2 separate regions of the Homo sapiens genome follow, and region 1 is linked to region 2. A link means that fine-mapping ties the variant in region 2 to the plasma level of a protein whose gene starts in the linked region. Region 2 holds a variant in brackets. A gene starts in the other region. All regions are shown on one strand. Distances are from middle to middle. Region 1 holds the start of KLRF1 (killer cell lectin like receptor F1). Region 2 overlaps RPL6 (ribosomal protein L6).

What was found. A credible set is the group of variants that fine-mapping cannot tell apart. PIP is the posterior inclusion probability: the model's chance that the variant is causal. Protein levels are from antibody-based Olink assays in UK Biobank. Linkage for the fine-mapping came from a reference panel and not from the study's own genotypes, which makes the PIPs less certain.
Region 1: KLRF1 starts here. The variant in region 2 is the best candidate, but not a certain one, in a credible set for the plasma level of the KLRF1 protein (UK Biobank, PIP 0.75).

What each region holds. Positions count from the first base shown.
Region 1 is chr12:9,816,371-9,828,499 of GRCh38, reverse strand. It overlaps KLRF1 (killer cell lectin like receptor F1), which reads right to left and starts at 1,019. Exons shown (of 6, transcript NM_016523.3): 1 at 871-1,019. The coding sequence starts at 955. It also overlaps the pseudogene GCNAP1.
Region 2 is chr12:112,396,596-112,409,415 of GRCh38, reverse strand. It overlaps RPL6 (ribosomal protein L6), which reads left to right. Exons shown (of 7, transcript NM_000970.6): 2 at 760-996; 3 at 1,078-1,176; 4 at 2,526-2,669; 5 at 3,074-3,122; 6 at 3,379-3,563; 7 at 4,040-4,227. The coding sequence starts at 760. The coding sequence ends at 4,192. Among named protein-coding and RNA genes, the nearest start is that of RPL6, 6.6 kb to the left of the region's middle. RefSeq lists an enhancer at 1-180. The variant T/C (reference allele first, on the strand shown) is at 6,454.

The sequences.
Region 1 (12,129 bases), 100 Mb after region 2:
GAGGGTATGCTTGAAGTAGCAAATTAAAATGTTGATTGCTGGTGTATAAACTTTATTTTGAGTCAACTTGGTGAAAAGCATAAAGTTTTTGAGAAGTTGAATTAAAAATTAGTATTAAAGGCTGGGCGCGGTGGCTCATGCCTATAATCCCAACACTTTGGAAGACTCAGGTGGGTGGATCACCTGAGGTCAGGAGTTCAAGACCAGCCTGGCCAACATGGTAAAACCCCATCTCTACTAAAAACGCAAAAAATTAGCCAGGCATGGTGGCGGGCACCTATAATCTCAGCTACTCAGGAGGCTGAGGCAGGAGAATTGCTTGAACCTGGGAGGCAGAGGTTGCAGTGAGCCGAGATCATGCCATTGCACTCCAGCCTGGGCAACAACAGTGAAACTCCGTCTCAAAAAAAAAAAATAGCATTAAAACACCATATTCTATGAATGATAAGGAGGTGAATGGCAGCAAATATTCACTAATTTGAAATTATTAATTTTAATTGAGTATGCATATTTCCTCAGAGAATGTCCTTAAGAAATTATATCAGACAAAATATTACAAGTAAGTGTTAGTTCCACATTGATAAATGGGAGAGAGAGAGATTATCTCATAGTAAATTTGTAAGATTAAATGAAGGAACATAGATAAAACATTCTGTATAGTGCCGGAAACTGGTGTTTCTTAAATGGTAAGAGAGGTTGTTATTTTTAAATCATTATTAATATTGAAAGAGAGGACAGGTGAGAGAGATACAGAGACGGAGAAAGAAAAGCACCCAAATACTGAAACAGTCCAATAACACAATGGAACAGGATACGGGAAACTACCATGTTAATTCACACCAATTGAAAAAATGAAATTAAATTCCATACCTTTAAATGTAAGTTGAGATGTTTGGGCAGAACTCCTTTTCTTTGACTGTACATTCAATGTCATGTATCTTTCTTCATCTTGCATCTTCAATGTGAGTGAATGTGTGTGTATACAGGTATGTTTTGTTTTATTAAGTATAACATGAAATGAGGAAAGAATAATAAATCTGCTGCTAATCAGAGATGCTCCTCAAATTGTCCTTTCACAGTACATATGAGGGTTCACAGTTTCACTTATTTGTGAAAACCTCAGAGGAAATGTTTTCTTTTTAAAAGTTGCTTTCCCATGACATAGATAACACATAATTTCTCAACTGTCCACCACATATTGAATTGAATATTCTTTTGAGTGCTTTACAAATTTCTCTTAATTTACCCTTAAAGTCAAGGGAATGGAAATTATGCCCCTTTTTGAGGTGAGGTTAATAATATATAGCTGCCTTTTGTTATAGCCTAAATATTTATATCATTTGAATTAGCCTCCCTAACATATTGATATTTAATTTAATAATTTGCAATTGCCAAGCAATTAAATTCTTTATCCTAAAACAATATTGTTTATAAATCATGCTAATAATTTAACAGTATAATTTGATTTTTTTTAACTTTTAGGTTCAGGGCTACATGTGTAGGTTTGTTATATAGGTAAAATCATGTCACAGGGGTTTGTTGTACATATTATTTCATCACCCAGGTATTCAGACTAGTACTACATAGTTATGTTTTTCTGATCCTGCCCCTCCTCTCACCCTCCACCTTCAAGTAGGCTCCGGTGTCTGTCATTCTCCTCTATGTGTACATGTGTTCTCATCATTTAGATCCCAATTATTAGTGAGAACATGTGGTATTTGGTTTTCTGTTCCTCCATTAGTTTGTTAAGGGTAACGGCCTCTAGCTTCATCTATGTTCCTGCAATGGACATCATCTCATTCTTTTTTATAGCTGCATAGTATTCCTTTGTATATGTGTATCACATTTTCTTTATCCAGTCTACCATTGATGGGCATTTAGGTTGATTGCATGTCTTTGCTATTGTCAACAGTGCTGCCATGAACAGATGCATGCATGTGTCTTTATGATAGATTTATATTCCTTTGGGTATATACCAGTAATGGGATTGCTGGGTCAAATTTCTGGTTTTAGGTCTTTAAGGAATCACCATGCTATCTTTCATAATGGTTGAACTAATTTACACTCCCATCAAAGGTGTATAAGTGAACCCTTTTCTCCACTACCTCATCAGCATCTGTTATTTTTTGACTTTTTAATAATAGCCATTCGACTGGTATGAGATGGTATCTTACTGTGGTTTTAATTTGCATTTCCCTAATGATTAGTGCCTACTGGAGGATAGAGGGTGGGAAGAGGGAAAGGATCAGGAAAAATAACTAATGGGTACTAGGGTTAATACCTGGGTGAAGAAATAATCTTTACAGCAAACCCCCATTACACAAGTTTACCTATGTAACAAATTTGCACATGTACTCCCAAATTTAAAATAAAATTTTAAAAACACAATATACCCTTTTAAATAAGATAAACTATTAATTCAAGGAGAAAATATTTGACAAATTATCAGAAATATATTTGTTGCTTAATGACAAAAGTAAAAGGATAATACATTTTTGTGTTATTTTTGTTTATTTTTACTTGCTAAATTTTGTTCTTTAATTTATAATTACAATTTCTTTGGCCATTATTTGACACTCCAAATGGATAAGAAGTAAATTAAGATTGATAAATAAAACACGAAAAGTATCTGTTCATGTCCTTAGTCCACTTTTTAATGGGGTTGTTTATTTTTTGCTTGTTGATTGGTTTAAGTTTCTTACAGATGCTGGATATTAGACCTTTGTCAAATGCATAGTCTGCAAAAATTTTCTCCCATTCTGTAGATTATCTGTTCACTCTGTTGATAGTTTCTCTTGCTGTGCAGAAGCTCTTACAGTTAATTATTTTGTTTGTTTGTTTTGTTTTGTTTCACTTTTGTTGCAATTGCTTTTGGCATCTTTGTCATGAAATATTTGCCCATTCCTGTGTCCAGGATGGTAATTCCTAGGTTATCTTCCAGGGTTTTTTATATTTTGGGGTTTTAGACATAAGTATTTTATCCATCTTGAGTTGAGCTTTGTATATGGTATAAGGAAGGGGTCCACTTTCAATCTTCAGCATGTGGCTAGCCAGTTATCTCAGCACCATTTATTAAAAAGGGAATCCTTTTCCCATGGCTTGTTTTTGTCAGCTTTGCTGAAGATCAGATGGGTGTAGTTGTGCAGCACTATTTCTGGGCTTTCTGTCCAGTGGTCTATGTGTCTGCATTAGACCATTGTGTTCCAATGGTCTATGTGTCTGCTTTTTTTTTTTTTTTTACCAGTACCTTGTTATTTTGGATATTGTAGTACTGTAGTATAATTTGAAGTTGGGCAATGTGATGCCTCCAGTGTTGTTCTTTTTGCTTAGGATTGCCTTGGCTATTTGGGCTAATTTTTCTGTTCCAGATGAATTTTAAAATAGTTTTCTTCTAGTTCTGTGAAGAATGTCATTGGTAGTATGATAGGAATAGCATTAAATCTGTAAATTGCTTTGGGCAATATGACCATTTTAATGATATTTATTATTCTGATCCATGAGCATGGAATGTTTTTCATTTGTTTGTGTCATCTCTGATTTCTTTAAGCAATGTTTTGTAATTATCCTTGTAGAGCTCTTTCACCTCCCTGGTTGACTGTATTCCTATGTATTTTATTGTTTTTGTGGCTATCATAAATGGAATTGCATTCCTGATTTGGCTGTCAGCTTGGGTGTTGTGTATAGGTGTACAGGAATGTTGGTGATTTTTGTATGTTGATTTTGTATCCTGAAACTTTGCTGATGTTGTTTATCAGTTGAAGGAGCTTTTTGGCCAAGAGTATGGGGTTTTCTAGGTATATAATCATATGGTCTGAAAACAGGAATAGTTTTACGTCCTCTCTTCCTATTTGGATGCCCTTCATTTCTTTCTCTCACCTGATTGCTCTGGCAAGGATTTCCAATACTATGTTGAATAGGAATGTTGAGAGTGGGCATTCGTGTCTTGTGCTTTTCAAGGGGAATGCTTCCAGCTTTCACCTGTTCAGGATAATGTTGGCTGTGGGCTTATTACAGCTGGCTCTTATTATTTTGAGATGTTTCTGCAATACATAGTTTATTGAGTGATTTTAACATGAAAGCGTGTTGGTTTTATTGAAACCTCTTACTGTTTCTATTGAAATAATCATGTGATTTTTGTGTTTAGTTCTGTTTATGAAATGAGTCATATTTATTGAGTTGTGTATGTTGAACCAACCTTGCATCCCAGAGATAATGTCCACTTGATCATGGTGAATTAGCTCTTTGAGTGGTGCTGGATTCAGTTTGTCAGTATTTTGTTGAGAATTTTTGCATCTATGTTTTTCAAGGATGCCGGCCTCGAGTTTTCTTTTTTTTGTTGTGCTTCTGCCAGTTTTGGTATCAGGATGATGTTGGCCTCATAGAATGAGTTAGGGAGGAGTCCTTTCAACTCAAATTTTTGGAATAGTTTCCATGGGAATGGTACCAGCTCTGTACATCTGGCAGAATTTGGCTGTGAATCCATCTGAGCTTTTTTTGGTTGGTAGGCTATTTATTACTAATTCAATTTCAGAGCTCATTATTGGTCTGTTAAGGAAATCAATTTCCCCCTGGTTCGGTGTTGGGAGGCTGTATGTGTCCAGGAATTTATCTATATCTTCGAAGTTTTCTAGTTTGGTATACATAGAGGTGTTTGTAGTAGTCTTTGATGGTTATTTATATTTCATGGGGGTCAGTGGTACCATCCCCATTGTAGTTTCTAATTGTATTTATTTGAGTCTTCTCTCTTGTCTTCATTATTAGTCCAATGAGAGACTTTTTTTTTTTTCCAAAAAACCAACCCCTGGATTTGTTGATCTTTTTGATGTTTCTTTTGTATCTCAATCTCTTTCCGTTCAGCTCTGATTTTGGTTATATTTAGTCTTCTGCTACCTTTGAGGTTGGTTGGCTCTTACTTCTCCAGTTCTTTTAGTTATATGTTAGAGTGTTAAATTTGAGATCTTTCTAACTTTTTTGTGTAGGCGTTTAGCGCTATAAGTTTTTCTCTTAATACTGCCTTAGCTGTGTCTCAGAGATTCTGGTATGTCGTATCTTTGTTCTCATGAGTTTCAAAGAATGTTTCGATGTCTGCCTTAATTTCATTATTTATCCCCAAAGTCATTCAGGAGCATGTTGTTTAATTCCCATGTAATTGCATGGTTTTGAGTGATTTGTTTTGTCTTGATTTCTATTTTTATTGCGTTGTGGTCCAAGAATGTGTTTGGCATGATTTTGCTTTTTTTGTTTTTTGGTTTTTGAGTTTTTGTTTTTTTTTTTTGCATTTGCTAAGAATTGTTTTACATTCAATTGTGCGGTCAATTTTAGATTATGTGGCATGTGGCAATGAGAAGAATGTATATACTGGTTTTCTGGGTTCGGAGTACTGTAAAGGTCTATCAAATCCATTTGGTCCAATGTCAAGTTCAGGTTCTGAATATCTTTGTTAATTTGCTCCCTTGATGACCTGTCTGGAGTGTTAAAGTCTCCCACTATTATTTTGTAAATATTTAAGACTCTTTGTAGCTAAGAACTTGCTTTATGAATTTGGGTGCTCCTGTACTAGGTACATATATATTTGGGATAGTTAAGTCTTCTCGCTGAATTGAATTTATTATTATGTAATGTCCTTCTTTGTCTTTTTTCATCTTTATTGGTTTAAAGTCTGTTTTGTCTGAAATTAGGATTGCAAACCCTGTTTTTTTTTACTGATTTTCATTTGCTTGTTAGATTTTCCTCCATCCCTTTATTTCAAGCCTGTGTGTCATTGTGTGTGAGATGGTTCTACTGAAGATAGCATACCATTGAGCTTTGATTTTTTATCCAGCTTGCCACTCTGCACCTTTTAAATGGGGCAGCTAGTCTGTTTACATTCAAGGTTAGTATTCATATGTGTGGATTTGATCCTGTCATTGTATTGTTAGTTGGTTATTATGCCAGCTTGTATCTCCCCATCCCTTTCAGGGATGTCGATGATTTGTAGATTTGGCGCCTTTACATAATCCTATATTTCTCAAAGATTTTGTTCCTTCCTTTTCATTCTTTTTCCTTTGTTTTTGTCTGACTGTCTTATTTTAGAGGGCTAGTCTTCAAGTTCTTCAGCTTGGTCAATTCCACTGTCAATACTTGGAATTGTATTGTGAAATTCTTGTAATGTGTTTTCCAGCTCTAGCAGATCAGTTAGGTTCTTTTCTATAGTGGTTATTCTGTCTGTCAGCTTTTGTATTGTTTTAGTGTGATTCTTAGTTTTCTTGGATTGGGTTTTACCATTTTCCTGAATGCTGATGATCTTCATTTCTATCCATATTCGGAATTCTATTTCTGTCATTTCAGTCAGCTCTGCTGGTTTAAAACCCTTGTTGGATAACTAGCGCAGTCATTTGGAGGACATAAGAAACTCTGGCCATTTGAGTTGCTGGAGTTCTTGTGTTGCTTCTTTCTCTTCTCTGCATTTGAGTGTTTCTTTAGCCATGATGTAGATTGCATATAGTCAGTAGACTTCTTTTCTGGATGTATTCACAGGGTTGAGGCTTTGTGCAGGGTCTTTACTTGCAACTGACTTGTCTTTGGTCTCATAGTGGAGTGGGTGGTATGTTAGTGAAGTAGTTTGGTATTAAAGCTTTGGGATGTGATGCAGTAGGTTGTGCTTAGGCAGAGTGTTCAGTTGGTTGGCTCTTGATCAGTTGTGTGGCTCCCTTATATTTCTTCACAGTTGCAGCCATGCTGCCTCTCAATGCTCTGAAAGTTTGGGATCCTCTCCCACTTGAGTGTTGGCTGTAGATTATGGCTTGTCATTCCTGGGCTTTCCCCCACAGCTCTGGGGTGATCTCAGTGTTTATGTTTCCTCTCCAACTTGGAGGCAGCAGCAGAAGGGACCTTAGGAGTGGTTGTGGCTGAAGGTCTTTTATTTACCTCCTAGGGGCTCTACCCCAGAGAGGTGTGGGTCAGCAATTGCTCAGTGCAGTCTGCCCAGGATGGGGGTATCTGTGCTATGGGCCCAAACCAGGGTTTCTCTGCTTGGTGATGAGCAGGGGAAGTGTGCAGGACCTGTGGGAGATGAACTTTGCTCCTCTCCTTGGGTCGACTGTTGCTTGATGGGGGTATGGATAAGGTAGTTAGGGTCTTTGCTCCTTCATTAGTCTGAGGGTAGCAGGAGTAGTACCGCTGCAGAGGCAGTGGCAGATGGGCTTTTGGTTGCCCCTGGGGGTCTCATGTCTGAGGAATGCAGAGCTGCTGTTACTGGAAGTGTTCAGCCATGGGGGTGGGGCAGCTGCATTGCTGGCATGAGCTTGGTATTCCACTTTTTGGGGAGCAGAGGATTAAGAGTAATCAGGAGGAGAGAATGGTCTCCTCTCCCTATGGTGTCTGTGGCATGCTGTAAGCTTGAGTGTAGCCCTCAGGATCTTTGTTTCTTCCCCAGACTGAGGGTAGCAGGGATAGAACTGTTTCTATCCCTGTGGCAGAGGAGCTGTTGGATGCCTCTGGAAGCCTCTCCCCAGGGGAACTCTGAGCCACTACCAGTGGGTATGGTCAGCCATGTATGGGGCAACCATTCTGTGGTCATGAGCCAGGGGCCCTGCCTGGTGAAGAGTTAGGGGGTGTAAGTTCTCAGGGAAAAGGGGCTGGACTCTTTCTGTATGTTGACTGTGGTGTGCTGGAGGGGCCAGTGTGGTCACTAGGCCCTTTGTTCTTTCCCCAGCCCAACGGCCATTAGGCAGCACCGCTGCAACTGCAGTGGTGGAGGGGTTGTGGGTTGACTCTGTGATTTCCTCCTCAGAGAAATGCTGGGCTGCCTTTGATTGAAGTGGTAAGTTGGGGGCAGGGTGGTTGTGCTGCAGTACCATGTCCAGCGGCTGTGCCCAGGGAGGAGAAGTGAGGTCCAGCATGTGTGTGGAGAACAGTCCAGCCACTTATTCATGAGGTGGGTGCTCTGTGCTGAGGGCCAGATCAGCCCCTGGTCCCCACAGACTCTCCAGAGCCTGGAGACAGAGCGAGGGATGCAAGACGGCAAAGATGGCAACCTTCCCCTCCCACTGGGAACTCTGTCCAGGAAGTGGCAGAGCTGCTACTGGCTCGAGAGCCACAGCAGGGGGTGGCTGGAGGCCCAGGCTGAGAAGACCCGCCCAGCGAGGAGATACGGGATCAAGGTAACAGTCTGGTCATGTAACAATCTGGCCACCATTCTTGCAGGGCTGTTGCAGTATTCTGGGAGTCCACTCCAGTCCCTAGTTACCTCGGATTTTCCAGTACCTGAAGGTATCAACAGTGAAGGCTGTGAAACAGCAAAGATGGCAGCCTGCCTCTCCCACTGGGAGCTCCATCCCAGGGAGGTTCCAACATGTTGCTGGCCCAAACACACTGGTGAGGGTGGCTGGTGATCCCAGTTGGGTGGTCACACCCAGTGAGGAGAAACAGGATCAGTGACTGCTATAAAAAAGCACTCTGGCCACTTTCTTGTAAAGCAGCTGTGCTGTGTTGAGGGTCCAACCAGCCCCCTCATAACCTCAGACTCTCCAACGCCCAAAAGTGACAACAGTGAAGGCTGTGAAGCAGCACAAATGGCAGCCTGCCTTTCCCTCTGGGAGCTCCATCCTAGGGAGGTACAGACGTGTTGTCAACTGGAAAACACCCGGTGGTTGTAAATCTTGGTTTTGAGATTCCAGCCAGTAAAGAGAAACAGGGTCTGGGATTCACATGGAAAGGCAATCTGGCCACTTTTCTGTAGAGCTGCTGTGCTCTGCCAGGGGACCACTCCAGTCCCTAGTCGCCTCAGACTCCCTGAAGGCAACAATGGCTAAGGCTGTAAGACAGCAAGGATGGTGGGCTATCCTTGCCTCTGGAAACCCCATCCCAGAGGGGTACAGACCTGTTGCCAGCTCAAAAACACTTGTGGAGGTGGTTGTGGACCTCAGTGAGGAGATTTTGCTCAGTGAAGAGAAATGGGATCCAAGACCCACGTGAAAAAAACAGTCTGGCAGCCTCCCTGTAGAGCAGCTGTGCTATTTTGGGGGCTTCTCCAATCCTTAGTCACCTTGGATTTTGGCAACAATGGCTAAGGCTGCAAAACAGCAAAAATGATGTCCAGCCCCTCCTTCTGAGAGATTCATCTCAGGGGAGGTATAACCTTGCTACCAGTGGCTGGCTGGAGTTCCAAGCCAGAGGGTCTTATCCTGTGAGGTGCCATGGAAGCAGGGCCTGCGGACAATCCCTGCTCAGCCCCTTGGATTCAGCCCCTTTCCTAGGGATGTAGAGATGTCTAAATTCCCAGCCACTTTTGCTGGGAAGCCCTGGTATCTAAGGCTCCCAGGGCTCTGCGTGTGCCTGAGAGGCTACTCTTCCAGGACTCCCTGTAGCTCTGTGTGTCAGACTGCAGGCCTTTGTGGGATGGGTTCACAAGGGGATCTCCTGACCCAAGGGTTGCAAAGATCCATGGGAGAATTGTGCTCCCCCAGGTGCTCAGTCACTCACTGCTTCCCTGGGTGGGGAAGGCTCCCCTGGCTCCATGTTGCTCCCGGGTGGGCAGTCGTCCTGCCTTGCTTTACTTCATCCTCCACGGATTGAGTTGTTTTCTTGATGAATCCCAATGTGTGTAACTGGATGCTTCAGTTGAAGGTGCTGTATTTACTAGCCCCTTCTATTTCTCCTGTGAGAACAGCACACACTAGCTGCTTCTAGTTGGCTACCTGCACTTGCTCAATATTATAACTTGAAGAAGACAAAAAAATACTGACAATTTTTTTGGCATTCTAAGACTAATTCTAAATACAAAAATAAATAAATAAAAGCAAAATTTAGGGGGAAAACATTTTCATTTTGGCATGGACTATGCCTGGAACCAGGAGATTTACCAGCCAGTCACCTAAGGGCAGATTTATTACTTAAGTCTCTTTAATCTTGGACTAGATGCTGCTTGGTCTTCATAGGAACAATCACATATTTTAGGAACAGATTTGCCTTCTATGCCTACAGTGCTTCTACTAACATCAATACTTAAGAGTTACAGAATGTCTTATCCATTGTCATGGTTCCTCACACAATATTGTATTTGACATTTTACAACAAAGAAAGATTGACAATCAGTTCATGCCTATAGAAGTTACTTGCCCAGTTGCTCAGGATCTCACACACATTCCATGGGCAGTTGGAGGTGAGCTGCCGCTGGCCACACCAGAGGCTGCAAGACCAGACATGGACAGGTACAAAGAAGAGCTGTGCCACTTGCACAACCCAGAGGAGAATTGATACATCCTTAACGTTGATTCAAGCAGTGATGAGAACCACGGGTCTTCTATGGCCAGAAGAGCTCAGAAGAGACAGTCCAGCTCTATGGTAGTGATCAACTCTGACTCTGATGATGAATGCTACTCCTATGAGGAGAAGAAAGCTAAGATATTCTAAATAAGCAGTGACGATGAGAGTCTGGAGTGTTGTTATGTGCAGCCCACCATCCAGGAACCCTCCAATAGTTATTAGTGATGGTGATGATGACAATGATGACAGTAATGATTTGGAAGTTTCTGTGCCAGCAGAAGATTCGTATGATGAGGACCAAACTGCCTCAGATGAAGAAGAGCTGGATGAGGCTGCTGTCTGCCAGCATGATTCATCTGATGATGCTGGTTGAGCATGATCTTGGTGAGAATCTTAGTGAACCACCAGGTGATCCTGAGACTAAACTTGAGGTTTCAGAGAGGAAGCTGCCAACTGAGGAAGTGCCTGCACCTGTGGTGGAATAATCAAGGAAAAGGAAGGCAAAGACCAAAAAATATCATGGGGTGACTGAGGAAAAGACAGGCAAAGACCAAAAATATAGTGGAGCCACTGAGGAAGAGGAAGGCAAAGACCAAAAATGTATCTGTAACACCTGCTGGTAAGGGACAGAAAAACCGTGGACCTTCAAAGAAGAAACCCGGTGTGGCCAAAGTTGAAAAATGCAAGACTAGGACTCATAAGCGCAAAGTCCCTGGATGTTTCTTGCTTGACCTTGAAAAGTCAAAACAGTACTCTGGAAAAAAATCTCAAGCGAAATAAGGATGAACTGGTTCAGAGAATCTACGACCTGTTTAACAGCTCCGTCTGTGATAAAAAGCTACCAGAGAAACTAGAGATCAGCTAGAATAAAAAGATGCTGAGAACTGCTGGCTTATGCAGCACTGGCAGGAATTACAAAGCAAGGCAGAATTCTTAAGGTTATCTGAGAGTATATTCGTGTGAGCTAAATCCTTTACTGGTAAGAAGTGTTAGAAAAGTTTGTTTTTGTGAAATTAAGGATATTAGAATTTAGATACTGTTAAGTAATATTAGAATTTAACATTCATGTTATTAACCATGATTGACCTTAACAAGGGGCTCTATTGCTAACCATTCTGTGCCCTTGACAGGGTAGATCTGAAGCCCTTGGGATCTACCTTGGGTCTTACTTCAGCTCAATAGTTTTCACACGTAGGACAAAATGCAAAAGAAAAGTGAGTTTTCAATAGTGGCAGGTTGAGAGAAAGAAGAGAATGCTGGATGGGAGGCTGAGGCGGGCGGATCACGAGGTCAGCAGATCGAGACCACCCTGGCTAACACGGTGAAACCCCATCTCTAATAAAAATACAAAAGAAAAAAAAATATTAGCCGGGCATGGTGTTGGGCCCAGCTACTTGGAAGGCTGAGGCAGGAGAATGGCGTGAACCTGAGAGGCGGAGATTGCAGTGAGCCGAGATCGCGCCACTGCACTCCAGCCTGGGAGACAGAGTGAGACTCCGTCTCAAAAAAAAAAAAAAAAAAGAAGAGAATGCTGGAAAGAGGACAAGTTTTAGAGGCAACACTTAAAAACCAGGGCTACTGTGACATCTACCTAGACAGGAAAGATGAACATGTTTCATGAAGTTCATTGCTGATGACACTGAATGAAACTATCTGAGCCATGTAATCAAAAAATAGAATGTTTTCTGCATCTCAAAAAAAAAAAAAGAAGTTACTTGCCCCTAAGTAACTGGCTAACCAGGGTATTGAAATGACTTCCTGAAAGCACACTAATGACACCAGTTGGAATAAAACAGCTTGCAAGTGTGGGATTCAGTTTTTTAAGAGGGGGTATTTGCCTTACCAATATATGTTGCTGTCTCTGCCATAGCCAGAATGTACAGG
Region 2 (12,820 bases):
AGAGGGTGAGGTAGAATGCCGTAGTGGCTCCCTCCGGTTCTTCGCCACTCTCTTGGGCTGGGGGAACGAGGCCCTTTCGGGGACCCGTAGCAGACTGGTGGGTGTTAGAGGAAGCGGGGAGACGGCGCGTGCACTGTGTTCCTGGTCCTGGGTTCCAGAGGATGACACTGAGCCTGTCGCAGCCACGTTGGGGTTCCGCACTGAAGCCAAAAGGTTTCGCGTCTCCCAGCGTCCCCGACCGGAAGTCGCCTCTTGGTCTTTGCGATCTTTTTCTCTGGCTCAATTTGGGCTGATTCCGTTTGTGTCCGCAATTCCTAAATCGAGTTTCTTGAAAAGAGACACTGGTCTTAAGGGTTAAGACGAAAGGTACTGAAAGTAAGGGATTTCAAGTTCTGGTCTTGGTGCTTCTAACCTGTGGACACATTCTGCATCTAAGTTTTCTAATTCGCAAAACAGTAATAAAAAATAATGGTTGTACGGACTTCTGACCGCTCAGTATTTGGCAAAAAACCTAATAGGTGTGAGGTAGTTTCAAATTCTCAAAAAAAAAGTTTATAGTGTATTGGGGAGACAAACCCCAAATGAGTCATAGTGAAGGTTGGAGTAGAATGGGTAGAGTTTGAGAGGAAGGCCTGTATCTTACCGGGGGAGGGATTGTAGTCTGGGGAGCCCAGCCCATTCATGTACAGGTTCATTATTGTCTTGTTAGAGAGATGACTGGTGAAATGCCTTTTTTTATCTACAAAAAAATATTTTTAGATGGCGGGTGAAAAAGTTGAGAAGCCAGATACTAAAGAGAAGAAACCCGAAGCCAAGAAGGTTGATGCTGGTGGCAAGGTGAAAAAGGGTAACCTCAAAGCTAAAAAGCCCAAGAAGGGGAAGCCCCATTGCAGCCGCAACCCTGTCCTTGTCAGAGGAATTGGCAGGTATTCCCGATCTGCCATGTATTCCAGAAAGGCCATGTACAAGAGGAAGTACTCAGCCGCTAAATCCAAGGTAAGGGAAGAGGACCACGGACCATTATGTCTTAACCTTAATTGGCATTCTCTTACTGTTGATGCATTTGTGTCCTTGTAGGTTGAAAAGAAAAAGAAGGAGAAGGTTCTCGCAACTGTTACAAAACCAGTTGGTGGTGACAAGAACGGCGGTACCCGGGTGGTTAAACTTCGCAAAATGGTAAGATGTGGGGACTGTAAATTGGATTTTCTGTTTATGCTTGAATACTGTGAAGATGTTTTTGAATACTTAGATACTGTAAGTTTCTGCATACCGGAGAATTTCTGATAGAAAATAAAGGGCTCTGGGTTTGTAACTTGGCTTCAACATTTACTGTTAATCTTAAGTAATTTAAATTACTCGTCTGTGCTTTGTTCCTTTGCATATAATATGGGAATGAGGCTGAGTGTGGTGGCTAATGCCTGTAATCCCAGCACTTTGGGAGGCTGAGGCGAGCAGATCACCTGAGGTCAGGAGTTCAAGACCAGCCTGGCCAACATGGTGAAACCACATCTCTAGTAAAAATATACAAATTAGCTGGTTGCGTGCCTGTAGTCCCAGCTGCTCTGGAGGCTGAGGCAGAAGAATCGCTTGAACCCGGGAGGCAGAGATTGCACTACTGCACTCCAGCCTGGGCGACAGAGGGAGGCTTCATCTCAAAAAAAGATAAGATGGGAATGAGGGTTTACCTCAAAGAGTTTTTATGGAGATTAAATGAAATAATACATAGCCTGTTCTATAGAACATTTCCCACTAGAGCAGTGTTTCTTGGCCCCCTTTACCACACACAAGACCCAATGTAATCTCAGGATTTGCTCTGTAATTTTCATTATGGGAACATTCCCAAATAAGTTAACACCATACAGTTTCACAGTTGAAGATTACTGCATGAGAGGGAAGATGACAGTTGTTTTGTGAACTCGTTTTCCCATTAGGTGATCATGTTTGTGGTGAAAGTGAGACTGCACTAATGATATGGTATAGTTGGAAATAGGTTATTGTGAGTTATTTGTAGTCATGTCTTTAATGGCCCTTGCATGGTGTCTAACTTCTGCAATAAATGATCTGCCAGTCCTAGTGTCTGGCTTTATGCAATTTGTTTTCCTTTGTGGATGAAGTGGGAGTAAGACTTGTTGCTGTGAGGATCAGATGAAGTGGCTAGGATATGGACACACTTTACTTGAATTGGAAAACAAGCCATGTATCCCTAATCTGCAAAATGTGGCATGTCACACGTGTAATCTCTGAGGTTTAGTTTTTGCTCAAGATTGCAAAGGTGACTTGCTTGATGCTTTCTTTGCTTGAGCACACATCTCATTCATTAAATGGTGTCTCCTTTTTTGCACACAGGATGCAGAAGCATAATTGACCTTTTCCAAGTCTACTTAGCAGAAATGAAAATGGAATCATATAAATACAGTATTATACTTTAAAATAAAAAGGCTGTAGCAAAAGTTTGGCTGACATAGCTTGCTTCTAGTAATCTGAATGGCTTATTTAAATAAGTTGGATCTATGGACTCTCCACAGCCTAGATATTATCCTACTGAAGATGTGCCTCGAAAGCTGTTGAGCCACGGCAAAAAACCCTTCAGTCAGCACGTGAGAAAACTGCGAGCCAGCATTACCCCCGGGACCATTCTGATCATCCTCACTGGACGCCACAGGGGCAAGGTGAGAGTACCTGTGCTTGGGGCGCTTCACTGCAGCTGCCTGGGGTGCCTGGTGGCAATGCGTTTGCACGCTAGGTGTACTTTTCCTTTATTTACCTATGTTTGGGGCAAGGGGAAATGATCTGCAAGATACAACTTAGTTGTTGCAAATAAGAAGTGTAATCCATGGTGATTTATTAGCCATTTCCTGCTGTTGATTATGTTACACATGTTCATTTACTCAAAAACGTGTTTATGTCTGGAGTACTACCTTAGTAGCTTGCTGTGGTTGCTTCCAGAACTGCCGAGCTGTATACATATACATGTAGAAATTTCCTTTACCCAAATTTAGATGCCTGTGATTTTATGAATTCAGAAGTCAGTTTTTAATTGCAGAAAACTAATTATTTTCTTTTTAACTTACAGAGGGTGGTTTTCCTGAAGCAGCTGGCTAGTGGCTTATTACTTGTGACTGGTAAGAAAATCCTTGGATTGTGATGTTCTGTGAAACTTCCATTTTTAAATGCTTGCAGTATACACGTTTGTTTGCTACTGCCTACATGGTAGACACTTATTGCCACAAGTGTCTGAGGCCCATTTCATTGCCTTGTGTGCAAGTGGGTTAGACAAGTGGTCTTCTTTGTGTAGCAACATAACAAGTAATGGTCACCTAAATTGCAGGATGATGATTCTTCCCCCTTTTCCTTGCTAAATTAATTTTTCCCCCTTAGGACCTCTGGTCCTCAATCGAGTTCCTCTACGAAGAACACACCAGAAATTTGTCATTGCCACTTCAACCAAAATCGATATCAGCAATGTAAAAATCCCAAAACATCTTACTGATGCTTACTTCAAGAAGAAGAAGCTGCGGAAGCCCAGACACCAGGAAGGTGAGATCTTCGACACAGAAAAAGAGGTAAGTTTCTACTTGTCATCTCCTGTGTTAGCACTGGCCCTTCTACCTGGGAGTGAAAAGAAACAGGTTGCACAAAAAGAAGAAAAATGAAAGGTTAAATAATGAGGAATGCTGGGAGATACTTAGTATTCCAGATTCTTCTAAATTGAGTAGTTCTTTTGGCAGTCTGGGAGCTCAACTTAGAATCCTAAAGTTTGGTGGAATTGTGTGGGAATTAACTGCTACCATCGTATTGGGAATGTGCCCTTACTTATCCTTGATGTGTCCTAAAGTATACAAAAGCTTAAGAGCTACTTTTATTACATTAAAAAATGGGTTGTGTTTCACAGCATTCCAAGGAAAGGATTGTCAAAATTGTCTTTAATGTTTTCTAAATATTCTTGGGGATTAGTACTTGTGAGACAGGACTCCTTAGTTGACCTACAAGTAATTTGGTATGTGCCTGTTTTAAAATGTTTGATTTTCTCTTTATTTAGAAATATGAGATTACGGAGCAGCGCAAGATTGATCAGAAAGCTGTGGACTCACAAATTTTACCAAAAATCAAAGCTATTCCTCAGCTCCAGGGCTACCTGCGATCTGTGTTTGCTCTGACGAATGGAATTTATCCTCACAAATTGGTGTTCTAAATGTCTTAAGAACCTAATTAAATAGCTGACTACATTTTGTGTCTCTTTTTTTAATTTTTGGTTTTTAAAAAAAATTCTTACCTACCTGAAGGTGTAGTTTGACCATGCCAGCTCACCTGGGGGTTTTCCTTAGTAGAGAATGGGATTGGAAGGGAGTGGTGTCTACAAGAGAGCTAGTTTGTTGGCTTTGCATTGCTGTTCTTGGCTTCAGATTGGTTCTTGGTGCCTGGCTAATAACTTTTTCACCCACCCTCTACCATTGTGAAGTGGTGGCATTTTCTCACTCGTCCCTGAAGAAGTCAGTGCTAAACTGTACATGGATGAGAGAAGAGAATAACTGCTGACTACTCAGACAACAAACTCCCATTTCTCCCCGCTGTGCTCAATTCTCAACTCCTCCCCAATAATTATGAGGCCGTGCTCTTGTTTCCCAGGCCAGTGCAGTGGCTGTTCATGGGCACGTTTATCACATATGGCCCCAGTTCCTATTGCCTGGGCTGGTTCAACTCCTGGGCTCTAGCTATCCTCCTGCCTAGACCTCAAGGTATTGGGATTATAGGCATAAGCCACCACACCCTGCCAGATTTGTGCATTTTAATTTTGGCAGATTCTTCCAAACACTCCCAAGTGTTAGACCACTTTATTTGTTCTGGAAATGTACAGAGTACCCATCTTCTTATAGGTAGGTTATCAAACTTGGATTTTTGCCAATGGAAAATGAAAAATGGGCTGTGTGTGCTGGCTTCCACCTGAAACCCCCACATTTTGGGAGGTGGGGCCAGGAGGCTCACTTGAGCCTAGGAGGTCCAGGCTGTGGTGACCTGTGATTTCACCACTGCACACCATCCTGGATGACAGACCCTGTGTCCAAAAAAGGTGAAAAAAGGCTGGGTGCCATGGCTCAACCTGTAATCCCAGCCCTTTGGGAGGCCGAAGTGGGCTGATCAGCTGAGGTCAGGATTTTGAAACCAGCCTGGCGAACATGGTGAAACCCCATCTCCACTAAAAATACAAAAAAAAATTAGCTGGACATGGTGGCAGGTATCTATAATCCCAGCTACTCGGGAGGCTGAGGCAGGAGAATTTGGACGGGAGGCAGAGGTTGCAGTAAGTGACATCACACCACTGCACTCCAGCCTGGGCGACAGAGCAAGACTGTCTCAAAAAAAAAAAGTTGCTAGAATATTTTAAAATGACATGTCATGTTTATATAAGTAACATTTTTATTAAAAAAAAAAACTTGAGCCAGGCACAGTGGCTCACACCTGTAATGTGTGCACTCCAGCCTGGGCAACAAGAGCAAAACTCTGTCTCAAAAAATAAATAAGCCCAGCCTGCGTGTACCTGTGGTTCCAGCTACTTGAGAGGCTGAGATGGGAGGATGGCTTGAGCCTGGGAGTTCGAGTCTTCAGTGAGCTGTGATTGCACCACTGCACTCCAGCCTGGGCAACAGAGCAAGACCCTGTCTCTAAAAAAATAATTTTTCCAAAACAAAAAATTATGAGGACAATGGTTTTACATTTCTGCAAATGTATTTCATGTCTGGCTTCGTAGGAGACAGATTCTTATATCTGCTTTATTCAATCTATTGCAGTATCACATTATGTATTACACCTCAGGAGAACTCCATTCTACACTCGAGTTAAAAGGACAATGTCTTAACAGTAGTATGACAAATTGTTTTAACTTCACAGGTCCCTTTTTAAGGATCTCAGGAACATCTAAAGATCCCTAGATCCGGCCGGGCGCGGTGGCTCACGCCTGTAATCCCAGCACTTTGGGAGGACGAGGCGGGCGGATCACGAGGTCAGGAGATCGAGACCATCCCGGCTAAAACGGTGAAACCCCGTCTCTACTAAAGATACAAAAAATTAGCCGGGCGTAGTGGCGGGCGCCTGTAGTCCCAGCTACTTGGGAGGCTGAGGCAGGAGAATGGCGTGAACCCGGGAGGCGGAGCTTGCAGTGAGCCGAGATCCCACCACTGCACTCCAGCCTGGGCGACAGAGCGAGACTCCGTCTCAAAAAAAAAAAAAAAAAAAAAAAAAAAGATCCCTAGATCCTACTTTGAGAATCATTGCACTAGCCTCTGCATTGTTTCAAAGATTTGGGATCAAACAGATTCTGCCCCTTTTGACCAATAGAATGTGGCATAAGTGATGTGGAGTCTTGCTCTGTCGCCCAGGCTGGAGTGCAGTGGTGCCATCTCGGCTCACTGCAACCTCTGCCTCCCAAGTTCAAGTGATTCTTCTGCCTCAGCCTCC[T/C]GCATAGCTGGGATTACAGGCGCCTGCCACTCTGCCCAACTAATTTTTTTTTTTTTGTATTTTTGTATTTTTAGTAGAGAGAGGGTTTCACCATGTTGGCCAGGCTGGTCTGGAACTCCTGACCTCAAGTGATCCTCCTGCCTCAGCCTCCCAAAGTGCTGGGATTACAGACGTGAGCCACCATGCCTGGCATGTGTCTTTATTTTCTTTTACTTACCCACATGAGCTAACTTTCTAAAAGCACATATACTGCTTTTATAACAAAAGATTATTGTTATCTTAAAAAGCAAATTGCAGAAAATTATGTAAAATATCACTTTTAAAAAAGTATACGTGGGAGTGTATATTCATGGCAACTTGAATCTATGCTCCCAGGGAGAATAAAGAAAAGAAAAAAATATATAAGCTTAGTTTTACAACTATATAAATGTGTGCATAAATACAAAAGTTAAAAAGGAATACGATTTACACATGAACTGAAAACATGTCTACACAAAACCTGTACATAATTGTGTATAGCAGCATTATTCATAATTACCAAAACTTGGGAGCAATAAAGATGTCCTTCAACGAGTGAATGGATAACCTTGTGGTACATCCATACAATGGGACATCATTTAGTGATAAAAAGAAATGAGCTATCAAGCAACAACATACGTGGAGGAACTTTAAATACATATTGCTAAGGGAAAGAAGCCCATGTGGAAAGGGCTTCTTTCATATACTGTATCATATTATATACTCTATGATTCCAGGTATTTGACATTGTGGAAAAGGCAAAACTAAGGAGACAGCAAAGAGATCAAAGGTTGCACGTGGGTGGTGGGTGGAGAGGGAGAGATGGACGGGTGGACCACAGGATTTCTAGGACCAGGAATCTATTCTGTATGGTGCTAGAATGGTGGATATATGTCATTATCCATTTGTCAAAACCCATAGAATGTGCAACACAAAGAGCGAACCCTGGCCAGGTGTGGTGGCTCATGACAAAAACAACAAAAAGTGAACCCAAATGCAAACTATAGACTTTGGTTAATAATATATCAATATTGGTTCATCAGTTATAACAAATATACCACACTCATGCAAGTTTTTTTTTTTTTTTTTTTTTTTTTTTTTTTTAGATGGAGTCTCGCTCTGTCACCCAGGCTGGAGTGCAGTGGTGTGATCTCGGCTCACTGCAAGCTCCGCCTCCCAGGTTCATGCCATTCTCCTGCCTCAGCCTCCCGAGTAGCTGGGAATACAGGCGCCCGCCACCATACCCGGCTAATTTTTTGTATTTTTAGTAGGGACAGAGTTTCACCATGTTAGCCAGGATGGTCTCGATCTCTTGACCTCGTGATCCGCCTGCCTCAGCCTCCCAAAGTGCTGAGATTACAGGAGTGAGCTACTGGGCCTGGATTTTTTTTTGTTTCTTGTTTTTTTGTTTGTTTTTTTTTTTTTTTTTTGAGATGAAGTCTCACTCTGTTGCCCAGGCTGAAGTGCAGTGGCGTGTTCCCAGCTCACTGCAACCTCTGCCTCCCAGGTTCAAGAGATTCTCCTGCCTTACATCCCAAGTAGCTGAGACTACAGGCACACACCACCACCACCACACCCGGCTAATTTTTGTATATTTAGTAGACAGGGGTTTTCAACATGTTGGCCAGGCTGGTCTCAAACTCCTGACCTCAAGTGATCCACCCGCCTTGGCCCCCCAAATTGCTGGGATTACAGGCGTGAGCCACTGTGACCAGCTCTTACAGGTAGTTTCTAAGAGCACCTCCCCAGGTAAATCAGTTGCCCAAGAATCGCCATGTCAGGCTGCAGTTACAGGCAGTCTGGCCTTAGACGCCAACCACTTTACCTATCCTTTAAATGTCAGGTGACATTTTGTGTTATGGTGTCTTTATTCATTTATTTTTTTTGAGACGGAGTCTTGCTCTGTCATCCAGGCTGGAGTGCCATGGCACCATCTCAGCTCACTGCAACTCCATCTCCTGGGTTCAAGCGATTCCCCTGCCGCAGCCTCCCAAGTAGATGGGATTACAGGCATGAGCAACCATGCCCAGCTAATTTTTTGTATTTTTAGTAGAGATGGGGTTTCACCATGTTGGTCAGGCTGGTCTCAAACTCCTGACCTCAAGTGATCCACCCGTCTTGGCCTCCCAAAGTGCTAGGATTACGGGCGTGAGCCACCGTGCCCAGCCTGTTATGATGTCTTAAAGGATCAAATAATATTAGCTAATACTGACTGGGTGCAGTGGCTTACGCCTGTAATCCCAGACCTTTGGGAGGCCAAGATGGGAAGATCACTTGAACCCAGGAGTTCAAGACCAGCCCAGGCAACATGATGAGATCCTGTCTATACAAAAAAAAAAAAAAAAAAAAGAAAGAAATTAGCTGGGCGCCTGTGGTCCCAGCTACTCGGGAGGCTGAGGTTGGAGAATCGCTTGAGCCCAGGAGGCAGAGTTTGCAGTGAGCCATGATCATGCCACTGCACTCCAGCCTGGGCAACAGAGCAAGACCCTGTCTCAAAAAAAAAAAAAAGATGAAGAGTAGTAGCAACTATGAGTTTCAGCCTGTTAAACTCAAGACGTGCCAGAAATAATGAATTTTTCAGTTTTTATTTATTTTTTATTTTGGGACAGGATGTCACTCTGTCACCCAGGCTGGAGTGCAGTGGCATCATCACCACTGCTCACTGCATCCTGGACTGCCCTGGCTCAAGTGATCCTTCAGCTTTAGCCTCCTGAGTAGCTGGGACTACAGGTGCTTGCCACCATGCCCAGCTCGTTTTTGTTGTTGCTGTTTGTTTGTCTTTCTGGGTTTTTATTTGTTTTTGCAGAGACAGGGTCTCACCATGTTACCCAGGCTGGTCTTGAACTCCTGGGCTCAAGCAATCCTCCCATGTCGGCTTCCCAAAGTGCTGGAATTATAGGCATGAACCACTGTGCCTGCCCCAGTTTTTAGAAGTCGACTTGCTTCTGACTTTTAAAACCCTGTAGATTAAACTTTAGGTATTCTTAATTTTTTTTTGTCTTTTGGAGACAGTCTCACTCTGTTACCCAGGCTGGAGTGTAGTGGCACCATCTCAGCTCACAGCAACCTCCCCCTTCCGGGTTCAAATGATTCTTGTGCCTTAGCCTCCCGAGTAGCTGGGATCACAGGCACCAGCCACCAAGCCTGGCTAATTTTTTTTTTTTTTTTTTTGAGACAGAGTCTCGCTCTGTTACCCAGGCTGGAGTGCAGTGGTGCAATCTCAGCTCACCACAACCTCTGCCTCCTGGGTTCAAGCAATTCTCCTGCCTCAGCCTCCCAAGTAGCTGGGACTACAGGCATGCACCACCATGCCTGGCTAATTTTTGTATTTTTAGTAGAGACAGGGTTTTACTATGTTGGCCAGGCTGGTCTTGAACTCCTGACCTCGTGATAAGCCTGGCTAATTTTTGTATTTTTAGTAGAGATGGGGTTTCTCCATGTTGGCCAGGCTGGTCTCGAACTCTTGGCCTCAAGTGACCTGCCTGCCTTGGCCTTCCCAAGTACTGGGATTACAGGCGTGCGCCACCGCACCCGGCCTACATTCGGTATTCTTAGGGCTTGAGGTAGATCATATTATTCAAAAGATGGCAACAATATCTCCCACCCAATTTGGTATTCTTTTTTTATTTTTATTTTTTATATATTTTTATTATTATTATTACTATTATTATTATTATTATTATTATTATTTGAGACGGAGTCTTGCTCTGTTGCCCAGGCTGGAGTGCGGTGATGCGATCTCGGCTCACTGCAAGCTCCGCCTCCTGGGTTCACGCCATTCTCCTGCCTCAGCCTCCCTAGTAGCTGGGACTACAGGCGCCCGCCACCACGCCCGGCTAATTTTTTGTATTTTTAGTAGAGACGGCGTTTCACCATGTTAGCCAGGATGGTCTCGATCTGACCTTTTGATCCGCCCGTCTCGGCCTCCCAAAGTGCTGGGATTACAGGCGTGAGCCACTGAGCCTGGCCTATATTTTTGTTTTTTATTATACTTTAAGTTCTGAGATACATGTGCAGAACTTGCAGGTTTCTTACATAGGTACACATGTGCCATAGTGGTTTGCTGCACACATCAACCCATCTTCTAGGTTTTAAGCCCCACATGCATTAGTTATTTGTCCTAATGCTATCCCTCCCCTTGCCCTCAACTCCCTGACAGGCCCCAGTGTTTGATGTTCCCCTCCCTCCTGTGTCCATGTGTTCTTTTTTTTTTTTTTTTTGTTGAGACCGAGTCTCCCTCTGTCGCCCAGGCTGGAGTGCAGTGGCGCAATCTCGGCTCACTGCAACCTCCGCCTCCTGGGTTCACGACATTCTCCTGCCTCAGCCTCCCGAGTAGCTGGGACTATAGGCGCCCGCTACCACGCCCGGCTAATTTTTTGTATTTGTGGTAGAGATGGGGTTTCACCGTGTTAGCCAGGATGGTCTCAATCTCCTGACCTCGTGATCTGCCCGCCTCAGCCTTCCAAAGTGCTGGGATTACAGGCGTGAGCCACTGCGCCTGGCCCTGTCCATGTGTTCTCATTGTTCAGCTCCCACTTATGAGTGAGAACATGTGGTGTTTGGTTTTCTGTTCCTGTGTTAGTTTGCTGAGAATGATGGTTTCCAGCTTCATCCATGTCCCTACAAAGGACATGAACTCATTCTTTTTTATGGCTGCATAGTATTCCATGGTGTATATGTGCCACATTTTCTTTATCCAGTCTATCATTGAAGGGCATCTGGGTTGGTGCCAAGTCCTTGCTATTGTGAATAGTGCTGCAATAAACATACGTGTGCATGTGTCTTTATAGTAGAATGATATATAATCCTCTGGGTATATACCCAGTAATGGGATTGCTGGGTCAAATGGTATTTCTGGTTCTAGAATCTTGAGGAATCGCCACACTGTCTTCCACAATGGTTCAACTAATTTACACTCCCACCAACAGTGTAAAAGCATTCCTATTTCTCCACATCCTCTTCAGCATCTGTTGTTTCCTGATTTTTTAATGATCATCATTCTAACTGGCATGGGATGATTACCTCATTGTAGTTTTGATTCGCATTTCTCTAATGACCAGTGATGATGAGCTTTTTTTCATAAGTTTGTTGGCTGCATAAATGTCTTCTTTTGAGAACTGTCTGTTCATATCCTTCACTCACTTTTTGATGGGATTGTTTATTTTTTTCTTGTAAATTTGTTTAAGTTCCTTGTAGATTCTGGACATTAAAGCTTTGTCAGCCGGGCACGGTGGCTCACGCCTGTAATCCCAGCAGTTTGGGAGGCTGATGTGGGCGGATCACGAGGTCAGGAGATCGAGACCATCCTGGCTAACACGGTGAAACCCCATCTCTACTAAAAGTACAAAAAATTAGCCGGGCGTGGTGGCGGGGGCCTGTAGTCCCAGCTACTCGGGAGGCTGAGGCAGGAGAATAGCGTGAACCCGGCGGGTGGAGCTTGCAATGAGCAGAGATCGCGCCACTGCACTCTAGCCTGGGTGACAGAGCGAGACTCCGTCTCAAAAAAAAAAAGCTTTGTCAGATGTACAGATTGCAAAAATTTTCTCCCATTCTGTAGGTTGCCTATTCACTCTGATGATAGTTTCTTTTGCTGTGCAGAAGCTCTTTAGTTTAATTAGATCCCATTTGTCAATTTTGGCTTGAGAATGGCGTGAACCCGGGAGGCGGAGGTTGCAGTGAGCTGAGATCGCACCACTGCACTCCAGCCTGGGCAACAGAGCGAGATTCTGTCTCAAAAAAAAAAAAAAAAAAATTTCCCTCCAAACACTTCTTTAGCTGTGTCCCAGAGATTCTGGTACATTGTGTTTTTGTTCTCATTGGTTTCAAAGAACTTATTTATTTCTGCCTTAATTTTGTTATTTACCCAGTAATCATACAGGAGCAGGTTGTTCAGTTTCCATGTAGTTGTGTGGTTTTGAGTGAGTTTCTTAATCCTGAGTTCTAATTTGATTGCACTGTGTTCTGAGAGACTGTTATGATTTCCATTCTTTTTCATTTGCTGAGGAGTGTTTTACTTCTAATTATGTGGTCAATTTTAGAATAAGTGCTATGTGGTGCTGAGAAGAATGTATATTCTGTTGATTTTGGGTGGAAAGTTCTGTAGATGTCTATTAGGTCCACTTGGTTCAGAGCTGAGTTCAAGTCCTGAATATCCTTGTTAATTTTCTTTCTCATTGATCTGTCTAATATTGACAATGGGGTGTTAAAGTCTCCCACTATTATTGTGTGAGAGTCTAAGTATCTTTGTAGATCTCTAAGAATTTGCATTATGAATCTGTGTGCTCCTGTACTGGGTGCATATATATTTAGGAGAGTTAGCTCTTCTTGATGCATTGATCCCTTTACCATT